Homo sapiens: one gene and its partners. The protein of the gene in region 1 interacts with the protein of each later gene in a pairwise test. Each region holds a gene or a part of one and is shown on either strand. Other genes may lie near its edges.

Evidence for each region. Proteins that work in one complex are often made in the same cells at the same time.
Region 2: the proteins of RBPMS (region 1) and VGLL3 interact in binary tests that used the Homo sapiens proteins (3 or more experiments, as listed by UniProt).
Region 3: the proteins of RBPMS (region 1) and BANP interact in binary tests that used the Homo sapiens proteins (3 or more experiments, as listed by UniProt).
Region 4: the proteins of RBPMS (region 1) and MYOZ2 interact in binary tests that used the Homo sapiens proteins (3 or more experiments, as listed by UniProt).

Annotation. Positions count from the first base shown.
Region 1 is NC_000008.11:30,540,457-30,545,686, reverse strand, and holds part of RBPMS (RNA-binding protein with multiple splicing), read right to left. Parts: intron 1,194-5,230; coding exon 1,063-1,193; coding exon of another isoform or gene 916-1,062; exon of another isoform or gene 524-915; coding exon of another isoform or gene 512-523; exon of another isoform or gene 59-511; intron 27-58; exon of another isoform or gene 1-26.
Region 2 is NC_000003.12:86,973,166-86,978,395, forward strand, and holds part of VGLL3 (transcription cofactor vestigial-like protein 3), read right to left. Parts: intron 1-5,230. UniProt on the Homo sapiens protein: May act as a specific coactivator for the mammalian TEFs.
Region 3 is NC_000016.10:88,030,688-88,035,917, forward strand, and holds part of BANP (protein BANP), read left to right. Parts: intron 1-2,421; coding exon 2,422-2,558; intron 2,559-4,635; coding exon 4,636-4,707; intron 4,708-5,230. UniProt on the Homo sapiens protein: Controls V(D)J recombination during T-cell development by repressing T-cell receptor (TCR) beta enhancer function. Binds to scaffold/matrix attachment region beta (S/MARbeta), an ATC-rich DNA sequence located upstream of the TCR beta enhancer.
Region 4 is NC_000004.12:119,141,586-119,146,815, reverse strand, and holds part of MYOZ2 (myozenin-2), read right to left. Parts: intron 566-5,230; exon of another isoform or gene 1-565.

The DNA.
Region 1 (5,230 bases):
GGTGGTCTTTATCAAGACAGGGAATTCTGTACAACATAAAAGAGTTTTAAGTCAGAAGGAGGTTTTCTGGGAAGCTGTTTATTTCACCCAGCCTTGTAAACAAACACTGAGCAAAACAGGCAAACGAAAACTCTGCCTGTCCAGCCTAATAATTTTTAAAAATTTAAAATTTAAAGGCTGAATTACACATGCAGAAAGACAAATGAAACCTACGTACGTACTTTCTATTTGTTACTGGTCATCAATCTTTGCAGGCCAAAGAATGAGTGGTGATCTCCAGAGGTGAATCTTTACACTGATTACTACCACTTGCACTAAAAGCGAAGCTAAGAGAAATATTTTCTCCAAGGGGAGAGGAAGTGTTAGTATGTAGACAGTAATCTTTGCGGAGAAACAGGAAGTTTGTTTATAAAAATCAGGCTATTTTTAACTAAGAAAGAAAGCTGGTCAGAATAGAGATCTCTACCTTGACCTGTAATTCCATCTTAGACACTATCTTGTATCTCCTTTTCTACAGGGTTTCCTGAAAATGGAGAGAAGGAACCCTTAATCTTTCCTGTAACATATTTAAGAAAGTACAGCCTTCCCCCCTGGAAGCTTTCCCTTTGGTCAGAGATTCTTCTCACCGTACACGAGAGTGGAAAACTCTCAACACACAGAAACACGCACAGACGCACATATCCCCTTCTCCTAGCACACACCTTCCTCTGCAGCCCTTCCACACAAGGCACACACGTATACACTCTGGTGATGCCCTCTAGCTAGCTGGGAGCCAGGTGGATAAACCTGCCCCGGTCTCTCATGTGCGATATGAGGTGAGATCATTAAGGAAGAGAGAGGTGTCATTTGGGGCAAACATCAGGCAGTGGGTGATATCATTGCTGTCAGACGATCCTCGTCAGTCCTGAAGGAGTGTCAGCTTGATTTAGAGGGGATCATTAATCTCTTGAGGGTGGATCTGTTAGCTGGATAGGTGTTAGTTGTATGGTGTGCTCTCGGGAACCAAGTTTGAAAGGACTGGTGGTGAAGTGAGTGAAGTCCTGGCCGATGGGTATCAATTACCTGGGCATGCAGTGAAGCGGGATAGGTGAAAGCAGGAGGAGGTAGAGCAGGCGCTAACTCCGCTGGGTACAGAGGGTACGGGGCCCACACTTCAGGGCTACTGGGGTAAAGTGCAGGCACTGTGAGCTCATCTGCAAGAAAAGAATAAGGCGAGAGTTAGTGGTTACCATACAGCTAGTTTCAAATCAGAAAACAAAACACCCAACAACCCCGAGCCCCAATCACTGTCGGAAGTCAAATTACTCTCATTCTTTTAACAACCTGTTGTTTGTTGGCTTTGGTCCCACAAATGCTAAGTAAGGGAACGAAAAATATAACACAAGAAAAGCAACAAGCATCTGCTGCCTGTCTGGCCTGCTGAGATCTCAGGCCTGGACTCCGCCTTGAACACTCTGATGTCTTTCCGACTGTAGCTGGGGAACCCAAAACAGTGGGAATTTCCTGCACAAAACAGGAAATGCGACCCTCTGAGGAAAAGGGAGAGAAAGAACCAATGAAAGACATCCCATGAGAACCCACTGCAGAGCCTTTGGGAAAACCATGGCTTAACGGCAGGGCCTCAACAGACCAGAACTGGAAGACTTTTCTGTTTATTGGCATAATTACTATTGACAAGTCAGTAATGATCATCAAGCATTTTCCACGTAGCCCTCAGAAGTACAGGGCCAAATACTGTGACCACAGGGCATTTAAGATCTTAAAAATTCAGAGAATTGAAGTGAAAAACCTTGAGAATCCTGATTAAAATTACACTCCACAAAGATGTAAACAGGAACATTTCCAGTTGCTCTTTACAGACTAACTTTTAGGGGAAAAAAGTGAGTCATATTGCCAAGTGCCTGGTCTAAGTGTTCCTCAGGCAGCTCCAATTCCACCCAGGTCAGGCTGCAGTTGGCCAGATTGAAGGGCAAGTGCCTGGGCCTCCCATGTATCAGGAAGCAATCCATTAAAAGTAACAGCAAACACATGAGGGAGCTTCTCAGGAAAGGCAAAAATAACATCAGTCAATAGCAAGGAATCTGGGCCCTGTGAAGCAGCAATCTCAATATGTGCTTTTATCACCTGTCAAAATCTGAAATCAAGTGTGCCAAGGACGCTATCCAGGACTAACACGGGAGTCAGCAAAAGGTGATTTGATAGAAGTCATTAGTAACTCTGCCATTCAGTACTTTCCCTGAGTCTACAGTGCAAGGTCAACAGAGTCACTTTATTCCTTCCTACCATCTAAGGAGCCATTCCAGGCCCAGTGTCTCTGCATCCTTCCCATCCCCCGAAACTCTTCAATACAGAAAGGGGGCTAGCAACAGAAAACTGCTTTGCTCGGTGTGATGTGGGACTGCTCTATGGCGAAACCAGAAAGTAGCAGAACCTGTGTGAGGCTTCCCCACAGCCAGCTTGCATGGCACGAGCTTCTCTCAGGATGGTAGGGAGTCAGGAGCTGACTGCTGATGATACGTTCAGAGGGCAGTTTGTACCCATTTTCAGATATGATGGGACCCCAACAATGTGGTTTAACATACTGTTGCTGGTTGGCCTTCCTGACTCCCTTCTCCTCTCAACAAGGCAGTAAAAACTACCTCCTCAGGACTTGGTGATAGAAAGACAGACTGCCTGTGCATCTAGGTGGGAGAAATAAGCCCCTAAGAGTGGACTGATCATTATTAGTCAGGGTGAAAGCAACAACACCAGAGTCCTTAAAATGATCAGGTCCACAGCATCTACTGTGTTCTAGGGTGTGTAGGTGCCTGTAGCCCAAGGCTTAGGGACCACCCTCAGAGGGGCTGGGAGGGGCTTAATAGATCCCTGTGCTTCCTGTTGTGATGAGACCATGTGATTTCCAGAGTAACTCACGTGGGAGCCCAGCTAGTGGAAACTAACTGCTACCAGAACCAATGCCTTGAATTTTAAACAAACAACCATTCTCAGGAATGCCAAACTATTATTGTTGTTTAGCGACCAGGCTATTTTAAGACATTCTGAGTCTTTTAAATCCTCAGTACACTGTGGCCCATGCTTGTCTGTTCCCACTGTGATAGCAGAAGACCATAAAACTGATACATACAACTGATTCCAAATGGCAGAGCCCTCAGGGGGAACGTGTTTGGCCTGCAGCCTGTCAGTGGTCCTTCCTTATCTTCCTGGCTAACTGGGGTGGGGTGGGTAGAGGTGGTTACCTGATCAGTAGGTCCTTCCTTTAGAAACTTTTAAAAATGAAATGAGTATGTCCTTTAAGATATCTGATCCTAAAGAGATAAGCAACAGAGATAAGCTGGAATCAGATTTCAGTGTCAGCCTGACTGCTGGAATTTATGTTTCCCAGACTTTTCTCTGTTTTTATCCTGAAGCATTACTTCCCATTAGTTCTTTACTGATGCTTAGAGACAATTCACCATTGATATTTGCACAAAACCCAGCCCAGCAGAAAAGAGGATTTGGTCTGAAATCCCCTAAACTCAAAATTGCTGAGTAGTAGTAACGTATTAGTGAGGCAGAAGCCTAAAAGAGATAAAGGTGAACTTACACTTGATAAATCCCTTGATACATCTTATCATCTCCGTCTCCCTTCTCCCATCATGAAGGAATGTGGAATTACCATAAACATCAAAAGATACGTGGTCTGACCAGGTCAGGATCGCACCTGAAGCAGTCCTCACCAACACCTAACTTTCCAGTATGAGCCTGAGCACTCTCCTAACACACACATACACTCCTTTGACGGAAATGGGTATTAAAGCAGAATAAGCTTTTTGCGTTTGTTTGCTTTTTCGTTGCTTGAGAAAATTACAAAAGCTAGAGAGACTGGTTTTCCACAGCACAAGCCCTTCACAAGGACTCCCCACTGAAGGAGCAGGCAAGGCCCTGATGGGTTTCACCTTCCTGAGTCACTGCCCATCCTGCTCAAACTTTACAGGATGGAAGGCTGAAAAAAGAAGACAAAGATTGCTGCCCAAGGCCCACTGGGATGAATTGGAGTTTAGGGAGGGGGTGAGATTCCTCTTGACAAAAGAGGCTCTTGACCACCCAGAGTGAGCCAGGCCCCAGTAAGCAGAAAGAGGGCAGATCAAGAGGCCAGGGCTTTTTTGTCTGGGCCTAATCCATCCCTCCTGAGAGGCAGGGCAAATCCTTTCCCATTGCACCAATCTGGCTACATCTTTTCTTTTTTGCACCTTCTGAGGATAATGTTGTTGAGGGCTCACAATATACATCTGAATAGGCTTTTTTTCTTAGCATGAGAATATGCAACCAGAAGAGCTCAAATTGGATTCTGAAAAACAAGGACTGGAAACTTCCAACTCCACCCTGTAATCCCTTTGAAACGAAAGAACTGCAGAGCGTCTGATGAAGGTTTAAGCCTACAGAGCTTGGGAAGATCATCTTCTGCCTTTTCGTTTTAGATGAGGAAACAGATGCAGAAAGGTGAAGCTTACAGTCTACGGTCACATTGAAAGAGAGATAAACATGAATGACTCTTAGAAACAACTGAGAGATGGAAGAACAAGGAGAATCTTTAATGGACTTAAGTATGGCCATGTATCTCTGAGTTTAGTTGGTAACACAAGGTTTAAGAACTTTTTTGCCTCCTGAAAACATCTATTTGGAAATATTCCATAGCAACTTCATGCTCGACATACTCAAAACTAAACATGCTCCCTCAATGACCTGTCCTCGTTGGCTCCAGATTTCAGCAAGATGCTACCTTCCACTCAGCTGCCCAAGCCACAGACCTGGTGGTCACCCCATCCTCCCTCTCATTCATTCTTTCATCAAGGTCCTGGTGAATCTATCCCATGATCCAGTTTGATCTTCACCAACACTACTGGATTACTGAAAAGGCCTCCTAAAAGCCCTCCCGGCTTCCACACTCAAGTCAAGACAACTTTAAAAATACACAGTTTGGCTGCGTGCAGTGGCTCACACCTGTGATCCCAGTGCTCTGGGAGGCAGAAGCAGGAGGAAGAAGATCGCTTGGACCCAGGATTTGAGACAAGCTTGGGCAACATAGCGAGACCCCGTATCTTAAAAAAATATATATTAGCCAGGCCTGGCGGTGCATGCCTTTAGTTCCAACTACTCGGGAGGCTAAGGTGGGAGGTTCACTCGAACCTAGGACTTATTTGAGGTTGCAGTGCGCTCTGACTGTGCCACTACACTTCTAGCCAGGGCAACA
Region 2 (5,230 bases), on another chromosome or scaffold:
ACAGCTTATTAATTTTGAAAATAACAAAAACTAAATTAAAAGGAAAATGGGACAATGAAGTGTTATAGAAACTCTAAGTCATCTTAAAAATTTCCAGAAAACACATTAGAATCAATATTGATTAAAATATGATTATTAAATGCTAAAAGGTAACATTTTTACATTTTTTATTAATATCAGTTAAAAAACAAAATTCTACTCAATTCTTAAGCTAAAGTGTTCTTGCTGTAATTTCATTGCCATTCTCTTGTTGTTCTTCCCATAAAAATAAATGGCTGGGTCAGAAGTGAAATGACATGTGTTCCAGTGTTTTCTGTCATTCAGTAATTATGCATTACCATTATGTCCAAAGATTGCCTTCTAGTTACTTTCTTCTAGAGTTGCTCAAAATGGGCCTTGTGACTCTACAATGAGAGTTTCAAGGGATGATGTCAGAGGCCGATACTCCTTGGAGGCAGCAGGGTGAGATTAGTCACGCCTCACTTTTTTCCCCATGTCTTGGTCCTATGGACATTCTGTTCATTTCCAGTATCAGCCAGCTCATCAGACAGGCCCTCCTTTTCCTTTCTCCATTTGACTATTTAGGTTTCGTATTTATTTTGAGAGCTTTTTCCCATGAGAATGAATTGCCCAAGCAGACCCTATGTACATCAATGAGCCAACAGATGATTTTCTTTGCAACTGCAATATCAGTAAGATTAGCATTCTGTATGGTTTTAAGTCAGTGATTTACTCTGCTATGGCTTGACATAGCTCCTGCCCTTTTCTACAGATACACACAGACTCATTTCTGTAAAGATCAGTGCATAGGCATATTTGAAACCAATGTTTAGCGCTGTGCTAAATTAATCATATAGATTATTTTTAAAATCTTTATAATAACTCTAGGAGAAGGGTATCAAGAAACATATATTTGTATGGAGATAAGGGACCAATCATATTCATTAGGTTTGTTATTTTTTTTTTTTTTTAGATAGAGTCTCACTCTGTCACACAGGCTGGAGTACAATGGCATAATCTCGACTCACTGCAACCTCCACCTCCCGGGTTCAAGCGATTCTCCTGTCTCAGTCTCCTAAGTAGCTGAGATTACAGGTGGCTGTCACCTTGCCTGGCTAATTTTTTGTGTTTTTAGTAGAGATGGGGTTTCACAATGTTGCCTAGGCTGGTCTCGAACTCCTGACCTCAGGTGAACTGCCCGGCCGCGGCCTCCCAAAGTGCTGAGATTACAGGCATGAGCCACCACGCCCAGCTAGTTAGGTTTTCTTAATGGAAAGAAATGAAATTCTTTCAACCCTGTTAGAATATATAGCAGGATTAGAGGTAACTGATAAGACATTGTGCCAAGTAAAATACATATACTTCCTATCATTGTTTGCCTTACAGCTGAAAAACACCTAAAAAAACTTACCTAGCTTCATGAAGGAGATATACATTCAAAGTATAACCATTCTTTCATTATTAGCTGACACACTATTCTTTGTCTAAAGATTTACCGTGTAAATATATTCTTAGTCAAACACGATTCAGTTATTAAATTTGTTTGTAGCATGGTAGCACTTCTGTGGCACTGTAATAACTTTATGCTGTAAACTAGACCCTTTAATACTCGGTCAGCAGTTCCTTTCTAAGCATCATTGCCATGGCCACTAACATTATCATTAGCCTTTAGTATCTACTATTATCTAAGACTGTGTGTTTTGTACCAAAAACACAAAGTTCCAGAAAACAATGTTCCTGGATAAAGGCTCAGGGTTTGTTTTCTATGTGTCAAATGAGTGGAAACTTACTTAAGGAAGAGAGAAAAGGCATCTGGCTTTCATTTAGCACCTTGAGTCAAGCTCTATGCTAAATTATTCATATACATTATTTAAAAATCTTTACAATAACTCTATGAGATGGGTATCAATAAACACATATTACAGTTGAGGAAGTTGATGTAAGAGATTTCAATTTAGTAATCCAAGATCACATTGCAACCAGAAGGTAAAGGCTGGAACATGAATCTAAAACAAATGGACTCCAAAGACTGTATTTTCCAATCCTGTGTAGCTTTGCCAATTAATATTAAATTGTCACCAACTCTCTCATTTTATGAGAATAAAAATGTGAGTCTCATTTTATTGAACCTCTTCTTTAAGACATTTTCTATATTTTTAATTATCGTTTGTGGCTTTCCTATAAATCCTACACAAGTTTTATATATTTATCTAAATCTGTCTAATTCACAACTTAAGACAATTATGACAAAGATCTAAGAAAAGCAAATAATACCTTTGAAATTACAGAACTTTACAGAAGAAAATATTTTTACCAATTATTTAATTTAACCCCCTTATTTTATAAATTAAAAAAAACTGTACCCAAAGAGTTCATATAACTTATTACCAAGAAATTTTCTATTAAAGACTCTTGTTTTCTAATTCCGGATACATGGTATGAAATTGGTTCATTTAATTCAGTCACTTAATCATTCAATGCATATCTATTTCAGATTTTCCACATAGAAACACATTGTTGTGAGCATCAGAAAAAATGAGGCACCATAAGAAGATATGGTATTTGTAGACTTAGTGGGATAATAGGAGATGAAAATTGAAGCGCATGCTGTGTGCTCCTGGTATATGCTGATAAACTGATGTAAAAAGCTCTAAAACAGTGGGGCGCGGTGGCTCACATCTGTAAGTGTGGCTCCGAGCACTTTGGGAGGCCGAGGCGGGCAGATCACCTGAGGTCAGGAGTTCAAGACCAGCCTGGCCAACATGGTGAAACCCCGTCTCTACCAAAAAAATACAAAAATTAGCTGGGCATGGTGGAGGGTCCCTGTAATCCCAGCTACTCAGGAGGCTGAGGCAGGAGAATCGCTGGAACTGGGGAGGCGGAGGTTGCAGTGAGCCGAGATCGCACCACTGCACTCCAGCCTGGGTGACAAGAGCGAAACTCCATCTCAAAAAAAAAAAGTTCTAAAGCATCTGTTCTCCACCTATTACTTTGCATTTCATTCACCTCACACCAGCATCTTTGCTTCTCATTGAATATTCTAAGCTCAGTCCATCTTCAGGGCCTTTGCACTATCTGTCCCTTCTGTGTAGAATTACTTTCCCCTAGGTAACCACATGATGAGTATTCTTATTTCCTTCAGCTATCTGCTCAAACATAACTGTGCCACACAGGGCTTTTGTTATCACCTTATGTAAAATAACATATTTTGTAACAATTGTTTGTTTCCTGTTTCTACCCTAAAAGCTCCATGAGGGTAGAGCCTTGGGCTGTCTCAGGACTTAGCACATTGCCTAACACATAGCAGGAGGTTAATAAATGTTTGCTGAATATGTCAATGAATAAAACAGGAGACATATTTGAAGATCAAATTTAAGATAGTTCCAAGAAAACTTTAGTAGTAGTTATGAAAACATTGCCTTTATTAACCCTTTCTATGCTACAGTTTAACATCTGCTAAAGGAACTTGTGTAATGTGTTTTGCAAATTACAGAGAAAATGCTGATGTGTTGTAGGGTTTCTGCACATTCACAACATCCCACTAAAAATTATTTTGAATATGATTCTATAGACAATCACTCTCACACCAAGAAATAATTTGGGACATTAATTCTGATTTTTCAGTTTAAATGATAGCAAGGTTGCATATGCCCATGTGCTAAAAGAAGTAGACATTATATTTATTACTCTCCTGGCACTGATTATCTTAATAGGATTCATTATTGATATATCAAATTATTTATTAAAGCCATCTAACTCACTAATGTTTTCCTATTTTCTTCCTCTACAAATTATTAAAATTATTCATCACGTCCTGTTAAATAGGACATTAGTCTATTACATAAGCATCATAGGCTTCCAAGGACTAAGTCTCAGTTCTCATAGTAAGCCCATATTATTTACTAATCAAATAACTAGTATGTTTTTCAGTTCATTTCCATCAAGGCCTTGGATATTTTATTTGTATTCCACCTTCCCCTTTATAGTCACTGTTTAGTGTTGTTTATATTTACTAAAAAGAAAAGTAAAGAAGCAAAGAAAAAAAAGAAGGAGAGGAGAGGAGAAGAGGCAAACAGGGAGGGAAGGAAGGAGAGAGGGTAAGAAGGGAGGGAGGGAGAGAAGAAAAGAAAGGTCAAGTAGGTAAGAAAAGATCAGGCCCAGCAATTCCATGTGGCCAGGACTTCTACAGTAGAGCAGAACCATTCCTGTGCTGCCCAGAAGGTACCACTAGTCACTGCTCACTGCTCACCTGGCCCTGCCCACAGGTAGCCAGCTTTTCCTCATGATAGGAATTACCCAGAGCCCTTGTTAAAGTGTGATTCCCACACCTTCCTATGAAGATTCTAGTTCAATAGATTCGAGATAAGGGGGTCCTGCAAACTGTCCTTAACAGGACTAGATCAATGATTATCAAACTCTGCACTGGAGTCACTGGGAGGGCTGGTTAAAACACAGATTGCCCCACCCCAGAGCTTCTGATTCTGCAGGTCTGGGGTGGAGCCCAAGAATTCGCACTTCTAACAAGCTCCCATGTGGCACTGATGTTCCTGGTCAGGAAAATCACACCTCGAGAACCATTTTACTAGATCATTCCTATAACCAGGTGAATTTGGAAGAAATCACCACTGTAGCAAATTTCTCTGAAGCTGTCATTGGAATGACGTATTATGTTTTTATCTAACCCTGTAATTACCCTGATTTAGATGTCACCAATAATTTTCTATGAGTCAGAAATCAGTTTCAAACACATCTCTGTGAGCTCGATACAGAGAGAAATAAAGGAGTCCAATGTGCTGCTCTTTCTTTATCAAGGTAAAAACACTAGTTTAAGCCATGTGGATGCTGCCAAAATGCCTAGAGTGTATACTATAAAGAGTTAATACAATAACAAATCAGGATAAAGAAGCCTATTCAAAGAACACAGACAGCTTTCAATGTCTGTATTCCTGGGTCAGACTCAGGTCTCTGGTATGTCACCACATAGCACCTATTGGAATGAGCAAGAGCTAATTTTTTAAAAGCTGATTTAGACACGCCTATTATTTAGAGATCCAAATTGGGCCACTGGGGCTTTAGGAATGGTACTTCGCAGCTCAGTGCAGCCACTATAAACTCAAGCCGGTTGTATCACTACTTTCCATGAGGAATTTAAGGGGTGTGACTGCATCCTTTCCAACCCTACATTCCACATGTGACAAAACCGATCCAGCTGTTTGTCTGAAAGAAATTC
Region 3 (5,230 bases), on another chromosome or scaffold:
CAGCGTGTGAAGCCGAGTGTTTTGCTGGCTGCGCTGGTAGGCAGGAGCTTCCTCGGAGCCCTTGTGGTTGCAAGGTGCACTCTGGAGCACACCCATTCTTTGCTTGTCTGCCCTGTGGCCCCAGTGGAGTGTTTTGGAGCTGCTGGGAGAAGCTGTCCAGGGACAGACTGTCATGGTGGCAGTGGGCTGGAAACCGTTGTCTTTGGGGAAACGGTTAGAAATGGAGATTTCACAAGGTTTGATAATGCTTAGATGCCTGGAGAAGTAGCGCATAAGTAAAGAATTAGGCTGGTTTTGTAGGTGCTAAGAGGGTCAGTGGAGGAACAGCAGCTCCGCGGAGGTGGGCTTCAGCCCAGCTGGGATTTTGTCATTTTCTTCCTGGGGTGCACAAGGCTTGCTCGAGGACCTGTGGTGGTGAGTGCTCCGTAACTGCTCAGGCAGACAGGAAGCCGCCGTGGAGCACGCAGCACTGCCTGGCGGTGGTTGCTTTGGGACATGACCCATCACTGGAGGTGCTCAGGTGGAGTCAGGGTCTTTGGCTGGAGCCGAGCTCTCCACATGCAGCATGCAGGTGGGCTTGTTGAATCTCCTTTGAATCTCATGAATTTCAGATTCTGATTTAGTGTAGCTAGGCAATTTCTAGCATATTGCAAGTATCAACATTCTGTTAATGTGACTGGGCACAGTGGCTTACACCTATAATCCCAGCATTTTGGGAGGCTGAGGCAGGCGGATCATTTGAGGTCAGGAGTTCAAAACCAGCCTGGCCAACCTGGTGAAATCCCTTCTCTACAAAAAAATACAAAAAAAAATTAGCCCAGCATGATGGTGGGTGCCTGTAATCCCAGCTACTTGGAAGGCTGAGGCAGGAGAATCGCTTGAACTTGGGAGGCGGAAGTTGCAGTGAGCCAAGGTCATACCACTACACTCCAGCCTGGGTGACAGAGCAAGACTCTCTCTCAAAAAAAAAAAAAAAGAAACCCAACATTTTATTGTTACTTTAAAAAATGTATTCAGTGGAATCTAGGTACTATGGCAATTTAATACCTACCATTAGCTATTGGTAAAAAATACATGGAAAGCTTTTCTCTCCCCTCCCCCGCTCTTGCCCTCCCCTCTCTTGCCCCTCCCCGTCCCTTCCCCCGCTCGCTCTGTTGCCTGGAGCTGAGTGCCATGGTGCCATCTCAGCTCACTGTAACCACCTACTCCCAGGTTCAAGTGGTTCTCCTACTTCAGCCTCCCAAGTAGTTGGGACTACAGACGCGTGCCACCACACCTGGCTAATTTTTGTATTTTTAGTAGAGACGGGGTTCACCATGTTGGTCAGGCTGGTCTCGAACTCCTGACCTGAAGTGATCTTGCCCGCCTTGGCCTCCCAAAGTGCTGGGATTACAGGCGTGAGCCACCGCGCCTGGCCCGCTTCTCTTTAATAATCAATAATTTTATGTCTTTCATTTTTCTCCTTTCATTCATATCAACATTCTACTTCTCTCACAGAATTTCATCTTACTGCTTCCCTCCCCTGTACCCCCGAGATGGAGTCTCGCTCTGTTGCCCAGGCTGGAGTGTAGTGGTGCCATTTCGACTCATTACAACCTCCGCCTCCCAGGTTCAAGTGATTCTCCTGCCTCAGCCTCCTGAGTGCCTGGGATTACAGACCCCCACCACCACGCCTGTCTAATTTTTGTATTTTTAGTAGAGATGGGGTTTCACCATGTTGGCCAGGCTGGTCTTGAACTCGTGACCTCAGGTGATCTACCTGCCTTGGCCTCACAGAGTGCTGGGATTACAGGTGTGAGCCACCGTGTCCGGACTACATTTTTATGCTTAAAAGCTTTTTAAAATTAGTCATTATAATTCTCTGCAACAAAACTACGTGTATACATTGAAAATTAAAAAGTTTTTCTGCGCTCTTAATATTCTGAGAGTTTAAGAAAATTATGATTGAGACATCATTACAGTGAAAATTAATACACAGTACATCAAAGCAAATGTATCTCATTTTGATTAAACACAGCAAGTAAAATTTGTTGGAAATGTATCTTTAAGTGTGCGGATGAGACTTTTGCTCTATTAGTTTAATTACCCATGGACAAATATTGCCAGCCTGAAACAGCTTTTAATGTCCACTTTAAGAACTTCATTCATTTAAATAAGTTGGGGACTAGAAGGGGTTTTGTCATAGCAGCATCACGCCACTCTCAGGCCCTTTTGCATTCCATGTCGGAAGCCTCAGTTCCTAAGACTCACTGGTAGTGATCTCTGCAGAAGAGTGGAGATGCAGTGAGTCGAGGAAAAATGAAGCATTTCCTCTTCTCTGCTGTGGGAGTCGACAGTGGGGGACGGGGGTGCACACATGCCACACCAGGCAATGCCTAAGAAACTTCTCGTTCACCCCGTTCACACCTGTTGCCCCCACAGAGCCGATGATGAGCACCCCACCTCCTGCCAGCGAGCTCCCGCAGCCACAGCCGCAGCCGCAGGCCCTGCACTACGCGCTGGCCAACGCACAGCAGGTGCAGATCCACCAGATCGGAGAAGACGGACAGGTGCAAGTAGTACGTACCCTCTCCACCTCACACCTTGGGAAAGGGGGCTGCGGGGTGGGCCACGGCAGGGCCATGGCGGCTTCCACCGGTTCCGCTGTGTTTTGGGAGCACAGTGATAGCTTGGGAGGAGGCACAAGGTCCCCATTTAAAGTAGAGGTCATCGTGGCCATGAGCTCTTAACATTTCACAGGTGGGGGCGGCTGCTGCAGAGCCTAGGGATTGAAGCACATGGTGGGGTGGGGCATTCAGTCAGCTCACCTCAGTCCTGCCAGCAGGCAGGCGGGCAGTCAGCTCCAAGGGTCAGGCCGTGCGGTGGTCCCTGCCCCAGCTCGTGCTCCTGGGAAACATCGGAAATATTTCTCAGTTCAGAAGTGCAGGCGCTCTCTTACTGAGGGAAAGAGTAATTTCCTTCTAGGATCAGTGGCAAAAGCTTGAGGTCATTGTTCCCATGCAGCGTGTCCCTTGGAGTTACTCAGCACACCCAGGTTGGGCGGGCACTGTCCCAGCAGCAAGTCAATGTCCTGCCTTGCCCGTGCGGAGTTCTCTATTGGGGTTTTGTGACCCAAGCTGTGGTCAGCCTGATGCGCCTAGGGGCTTGCTCCCGGGTGAAGTCCCTCTACAAACACCTCCTGGATTCTGTGGCATGAGAGTAGGGCGTGGCTGAGAAGGAAGGAAGACTTTTCTGGAAGCTTTGCTGAGTGACTAGAAATTTTACATGCACCACTAGACCTCGCCTATGTTTTTAGTGGCACCAGCCCCCTTGGGCCCTCTGAAGACAGGTCATCGTGTGCCTCCGTGTCACCAGGGCTTTCTCCTGGAAACATGGTCCTCCACTATTGAGAGTGGGGCGTGGCTCTCATCTCAGTGTGGCTTCAGCATGCTGTCTGGAAGAGGGAAGGCTTCCGGAAAATTCTGGGGCTTTTAGAGGGGGCGTTACCCTTCCTCTTCCAAAGGAGATGAGACAGTTATGAATAGTGAATCTTATTTAATAAGCTTATTAATTTGTTTGACATTCACAACGGCAGTTCCTCTCATCTTGTTAGTAAGAAGTTCTTTGAAAGCGTTCCAGAGTAGATAACTTTGTCATAAGGCTTACATAGAACATTCTACAGGAGTTTATTTTAAGATCCATTTCGACTAAGAGAGAATTTCAAATAAGATAAGGAGTATTCGTTTCATTTACAGGTTTATAGGAATTATTTGTCTGCCCATATGTATAAACAGTGGATTCTTTGATTTTTTTTGAATCACATTTATTAGTGTTTACTGAAACTGTCTAAATAGTCATATGAGTGTTTCTTTGATTTGAAAAACGTTGCCTGCCCTGTTGTGAGTGTAGGCACGCCAACAGCTCCCCTGCTTCAGCCACACACTGCGTAGCCTCCCAGTATCCCCAGAGAGCTGAACGTATCATTTGAAAAGAGGTGTCATTGTGATTTTCTATTTCCCCTCTTTTCTGTGTGTCATGCACATTTTAAAATTTACTTGTTTAGTAACATTTAAAGATGTAAATATCTTTCCTGGGACCTATTGCTCCTTTGTGAAGTGCTGGAAAATGTTCTGTGTTACACAGCAGCCCCCCCTTACCCATGCTTCCACTTTCCCAGGCTTTAATTACCCATAGTCAACTGTGATCTGAAAATATTAGATGAGAAACTCCAGAAATAAACAATTTGTAAGTTTCAGATTACATACTCTTCTGAGTAGTAGCATGATGAAGTCTGGTCGTCCTGCTCTGTCCAGCCCGGGACGTGAGTCGTTCCTTTGTCCAGCATGTCCAAGCTGTGTGGCACATATGGGCGGGAAAAAGCATAGCATATATGGGGTTCAGCACCATCCACAGTTTCTGGCGTCCACGTGGTGGGGGTAGGGGGTGCTTCTTGAAACCCTCATGGATGAGGGGGACTACTGTGAACCAAAAGCTTAATTTAAAGAAGTGACCACAGACTATATTGCACTATTCAGGATTTAGTTATCTTTTTGAATTGTAAACAGATAATCAAGAACAAACATTCCGGAAGATGTTTCTTGTTTCCTTTGCTTTTGATTTTCTTCTGATGCTTCTTGGTGTCTTTTCTTGCTGCGGATCCCACAGGGACACCTCCACATCGCCCAGGTGCCGCAGGGGGAGCAAGTCCAGATCACGCAGGACAGCGAGGTGAGTCAGCTCTCGCTGCAGCACTGTCCCTGCAGGCACCGTGCCCACATGCTCCCGACCTTCATCGGTGTCACAGTGCGAGGGCAGCAGGGAGCCCCCAGGACAGGGAACGTGGGCAAGGGCTGCAGGACTCCGCTTCCAGGGTGCACATAGCGGGCCTGCAGTCTCTGTGGCCTCTCTGCCTCCCCCTCCTGTCCGTTGGTCTCCACAGCTTCTGGTCTGTCTTGGTAAAGATCTCCTGGGTAGATGTTTCTACTGCTGGCTGGAAGTGCCCTCTGAGTACCCTTCTCTCCCTGTCTGGCCCTGCCCTTCCTGCCAGGGGAGGCCCCCAGTGTGGCCGAGATGGGGTCTGCCCCTGCGTAGGTGACCTGACATACCCCCTCACCTGCCATGTGGCCCCAGCTTCCTAGTGGCCTCTACGGGATTAGTGCCGATTTCATGGGATGGTGGGGAATCCCACAAGGTGATGCTGCCAGTCCTGAGAGCTGCTCATAGCCCTTGACGCACCTGCTGGGTCTGTGAT
Region 4 (5,230 bases), on another chromosome or scaffold:
ATCCCCCCATCTCAGCAGATGATAGAACAACTAGGCAGAAGAGCAGTAAGAATATAAAATTCTACAATATTAGCAACGAATAGGACTTAATTGACATTTATATTTTATTCAACAACAATAGAACACACATTTCTTTCAAGTGCCAGTGGAATATATATCAAGATAGACCATATCCTGGGCTATAAAATAAACCTCAACAAATTAAAATGGTTAAATTATTCAGATTGTTAGCGCTGATCACAATAAAACCGAACTAGAAATTAGTAACAGAATGATAACAGGAAAATCTCCAAACACTTGGAAACTAATCAACATACTTCTAAATAGTTCATGGGACAAAAAGGAAGTCTCAAAGGAAATTAAAAATTCAGTGAACTAAACGAATTTGAAAATACAGCATATCAAAATTTATGGGAAACAGTCAACACAGTGCTGAGAGGAATATTTATAGCACTAAATGCACAGTTAAAAAAGAAAAAAGTATCAAATCAATAAATAAGTGTCTACCCCAAAAAATCTAAAAAAAAAAGATGAACAAAATAAACTCAAAGCAAGCAGAACGAAAGAAATAGTAAAGATAAGAGCAGAAACCAGTGAAATAAAAAACAGAAAAACAACAGAGAAAATCAATGAAGTATGGAGCTGGTTTTTAAAAGATCAGTAAAATTGATAAATCTCTAGTAAGATTAACATGGAAAATATAGAGAAGACACAAATTAACAATATTAGGAACAAAATCAGAGATATCATTACAGACACTGCAGATAGCAAACAGATAATAAGAATATTAATACTACAAACAATTCTACATATAAATTCACATAAACTTGAGCACTTAGAAAAAATTGACCAGTTCCTCAAAAAGCACAAATTACCTCAGTTCACCCAACATGAAATGAGTACTTGATTAATTATATAACTATTCAGGCAATTCAATTTATAGTCTAAAAATCTCCTCACCCCACAAAAGGCTTCAGACTTAAATCATTTCACTGGAGAATTCTACCAAATATTTAAAGAACAATTATCACCAATGTCACATAATCTCTGCCCCAAAATAGAAGAGAGTTCTTCCTAGTTCATTTCATTAAGGTAATAATACACTGATACCAAAGCCAGAGAAAGACAACACACACAGACAGGCCAGGTGGGATGGCTCACGCCTGTAATCCTAGCAGTTTGGGAGGCCTGAGGCAGGTGTATTGCTTGAGCTCAAGAGTTCAAGACCAGCCTGAGCAACATGGTGAAACCAAGTCTCTACCAAAAACACACACACACACACACACACACACACACACACACACACACAGTTTTAGCTGGGCATGGTGGTGGGTTGGTCCCAGCTACTTGGGAGGCTGAGGTGGAAGGATCAGTTGAGCCTGGGAGGTGGTTGCAGTGAGCTGAGATCAGGCCACTGCACTCCAACATGGGAGACAGAGTGAGACCCTATCTCAAAAAAAAAAAAAAAAAAAAAAAACCACACACGCACACAGAAAAAATTACAAAACAATATCCCATATCCCACATACACGTAGAAGCAAAATCCTTAACATATTATTAGCAAATATAATTAAGCAATATATGAAAAGAATTTTATATCATGAGCCAGTGGGGTTTAATCCAGGGAGGCAAGGCTGTTTCACTATTCAAAGATCAATCAATGTAATTCACTATGTTAATAGGCTAAGGAAGAAAAATCACATTACTGTATCTTTGAGATCTAGAGCTAGGCAAAGATTCACCATGTTAATGGGCTAAGGAAGAAAAATCACTTTAGTATATCTTTGGGACCTAGGGCTAGGCAAAGAGTTGCTAAACAACACCAAAATCATGATCCATAAAAGGAATAATTGATAAACTGGACATCATCAAAATGAAAAACTTTTGCTCTGAGACAGACCCTACTAAGAGGATGAAAAGACAAGCTACAGAATGGGAAACAATATTTTCAAAACATGTAACCTTGAAAACAGTCTAGCATAAATACAGAACTATCAAAATTCACTATTAAAAAAGCAAACAATCCAATTAGAATGTGGGCCAAAACATGAAGAGGCATTTCAACTGAAGAAGATATACAGATGGCAAATAAGCATTTGAAAAGATGGTAAACATCATCAGTCACTAGGGAAATGCAAATTAAAATCACAATGATATATCACTATACACCTATCAGAATGTCTTTAATGAAAAATGATGACAGCACCATTTGCTGGTGAGGATGTGGAGAAACTGGGTCACTCATACATAGCTGCTGAAGATATAAAATGGTACAGACACTCTAGAAAACAATTTAATAAATTCTGTTATAAACTGAATGCAGAACTACCCTGCAATACTGGACATTTATCCCAGTGAAATGAAAACTTGTGTTCTTGAAAAATCATATACCCAAATGTTCATAGCATCTTCCTTCTTGATAATCAAAAACTGAAAACAACCCAGATGTACTTCAATGGGTAAACTATTAAAAACACTGTGGTCCATCCACAGCATGGTATTCAGCAACAAAAGGGAACAAATCATTGAGAACAAGACCCGGGTGAATCTCTAGAGAATTACACTGAATGAAAAAGCCATTCCCAAAAGGTTATATGCTGTATGATTCCATTTGTATATCATTCTTGAAATTACAGAAAAATTATAGAAATGGAGAGCAGAATAGTGATTGGTCAGGGTTTAAGGAGAGATGGGGCCTAGAGAGAAGTGGGTATGGCTATGAAAGGGCAACATGAGGGACCCTTATGGGAATGGAAATATTATGTCTCTTGACTGTATCAATGTCAATATTCTGGTTGTGATATTGTACTATAGTTTTGCTCGATGTTACCACTGGGAAAGGGCACATGGGATAGCCCTGTATTACATCTTAACAACTGCAGGTGAAACTATGATTATCTAAAAAAAACTCAAAATAAAAAATTTAATTAAGAGCTATCAAGCCATGAAAAGACATGAAGGATTCTTAAATGTATATTTCTAAGTAAAAGAAGCCAGTCGGAAAAATCTACTTACTGTATGATTCCAGCTATTTGACATTCTGGAAAAGACAAAACTAGAAGGTAGCATAAAGATCAGTAGTTGCCAGGGACTTGGAAGGAGGTAGAGAGAGACGGATGAATAAGTGGAGCATAGAGGATTTTTAGGGCCGAGAAACTATCCTGTGTGATGCTGTAATGGCAGATATACGACACTGCATTTGTGAAAGCCCGTAGAACTGCGTAACACAAAGAGTGAATCCTAATGTAAACTATGGACTTTAGTTAATGCTGTGGTTTGAATGTCTGTCCTTTCCAAAGCTCATGTTGAAATTTAATTGCCAGGCCAGGCGCGGTGGCTCACGCCTATAATCCCAGCACTTTGGGAGGCCCAGGTGGGCAGATCATGAGGTCAGGAGTTCGAGACCAGCCTGGCCAATGTGGTGAAACCGCATCTCTACTAAAAATACAAAAATTAGCCATGTGTGGTGGTGTGCACCTGTAATCCCAGCTACTCGGGAGGCTGAAGCAGGAGAATCGCTTGAACCTGGGAGGCAGAGGTTGCAGTGAGCTGAGATCAGGCCACTGCACTCCAGCCTAGGTGACAGAGCAAGACTCCATCTCAAAAAAAAAAAGAAAAAAGAAAGAAAGAAATTTAATTGCCATTGTAACAGTATTAAGAGCTCAGACCTTTAAAAGGTAATTAAGCCATGAGTACCCCACCCTCATGGGTGGGATTTGTGACCTTATAAAAAGATGAATTCAGCCCCCTTTTCTCTCTTGTCCTCTGCCATTTGATGACTCAGCAAAAAGACCCTCCCTTGATGCTGGCACCTTAATATTGGACTCCCTGGCCTCTGGAACCATGAACAATGTCTTTCATTATAAACTACCCAATCTCAGGTATTCTGTTATAGCAGCACAAAATGGAGTGCAACAGTTATCAATATTGGTTCATCAGTTGTTACAAATACACACTGATGCAAGATGCTAATAATAGAGGAAACAGCAGCGGGGAAGAAGTTTATACAGCAACTCATCGTACTTTCTCCCTCACTTTCCTGCAAGTCTAAAACTCTAAAAAATAAAGTCTATTATTAAAATGTTTAAAAATTTTTATACTTCTTCCTAATGCAATGCAGAACAGCTTTGTCTGGCTCTCTAGTATCCCCAAACAAAACAAAGCAAAATGCTGCACTTCACAGTCCCCAGGAATGGTAGAAATAGCCTATGGAAAAGGCATAAGAAAAACAGAGCAGAGTACATGAGGGTATTTTGCAACAATTTCCCGGGAGTTGCTCGTCAGCTTTGCTGAGTTCTACAGGGAATATTCACCCTTGCTTATTTGCAAGTGTTTGGAGTCTCTGTCACTATGTGTTTGGACCATGGAAGGATGAGCAAGTTTATTTTTTAGTGTGTCTATGAATATCCCTCAACATACTAGACAATGTGATGGGGATGCGATATTTCAACTTTTTGATTCTGGATTCAAAATAGCAAGTTCAATTTAGATTATAAAAGATAGAAGAGACGTTACGCTCTTGAGGTTATTTATATCCATTGTAACTGTATAGGGAAAATATGTAATGTTCTACTACTGCATATCTGTTTCCAGCTCTGCATTTAGTGCTTCCATGGTGGTAGCTTGAATTTGGCCATGGTGGAAGCATTTATACCACAGAAATTTGCAAATTCTACAAATCAAAACATCCCTACTGCTGCCCCATTCAAGAAGCAATTGTTAAATATATAATAGCATACTAATGGGCACATCCATCAGTGTCAGGGATGTATTGCATAAACAAATAAAACACACAAACAAAATTTTCCAAGGTTTTCTTCCCTTCCCTTCCCTTCTAATAGTTAAATTTATGATGTCACTGGAGCAAGGGTTTCAGAACCATTTGTGAGTTAAGGAATCTAATGCATGATCACTCTCATTACTTAAACTTTCAGAGTCAAGAACGCTGTCAGCTGAGCACACAGATTCTAAGTTCAGCTGTTGCCTGCCCTTCGCTGCAAACCCTTGCACAGGTTCTTAACGGTGTGTTTAATCTTGATGCTTGATAAATGATATGTTTTATTTAGAATACATATCCTTGCCTTCATGGCTTAGAAGGTTGTCTTTGTGGCATTAGATCATCTATTAAAAATAAGGCCGGGCATGGTGGTTCATGCCTGTAATCCCAGCACTTTGGGAGGCTGAGGCAGGTGGATCACCTGAGGTCAGGAGTTTGAGATCAGCCCTGCCA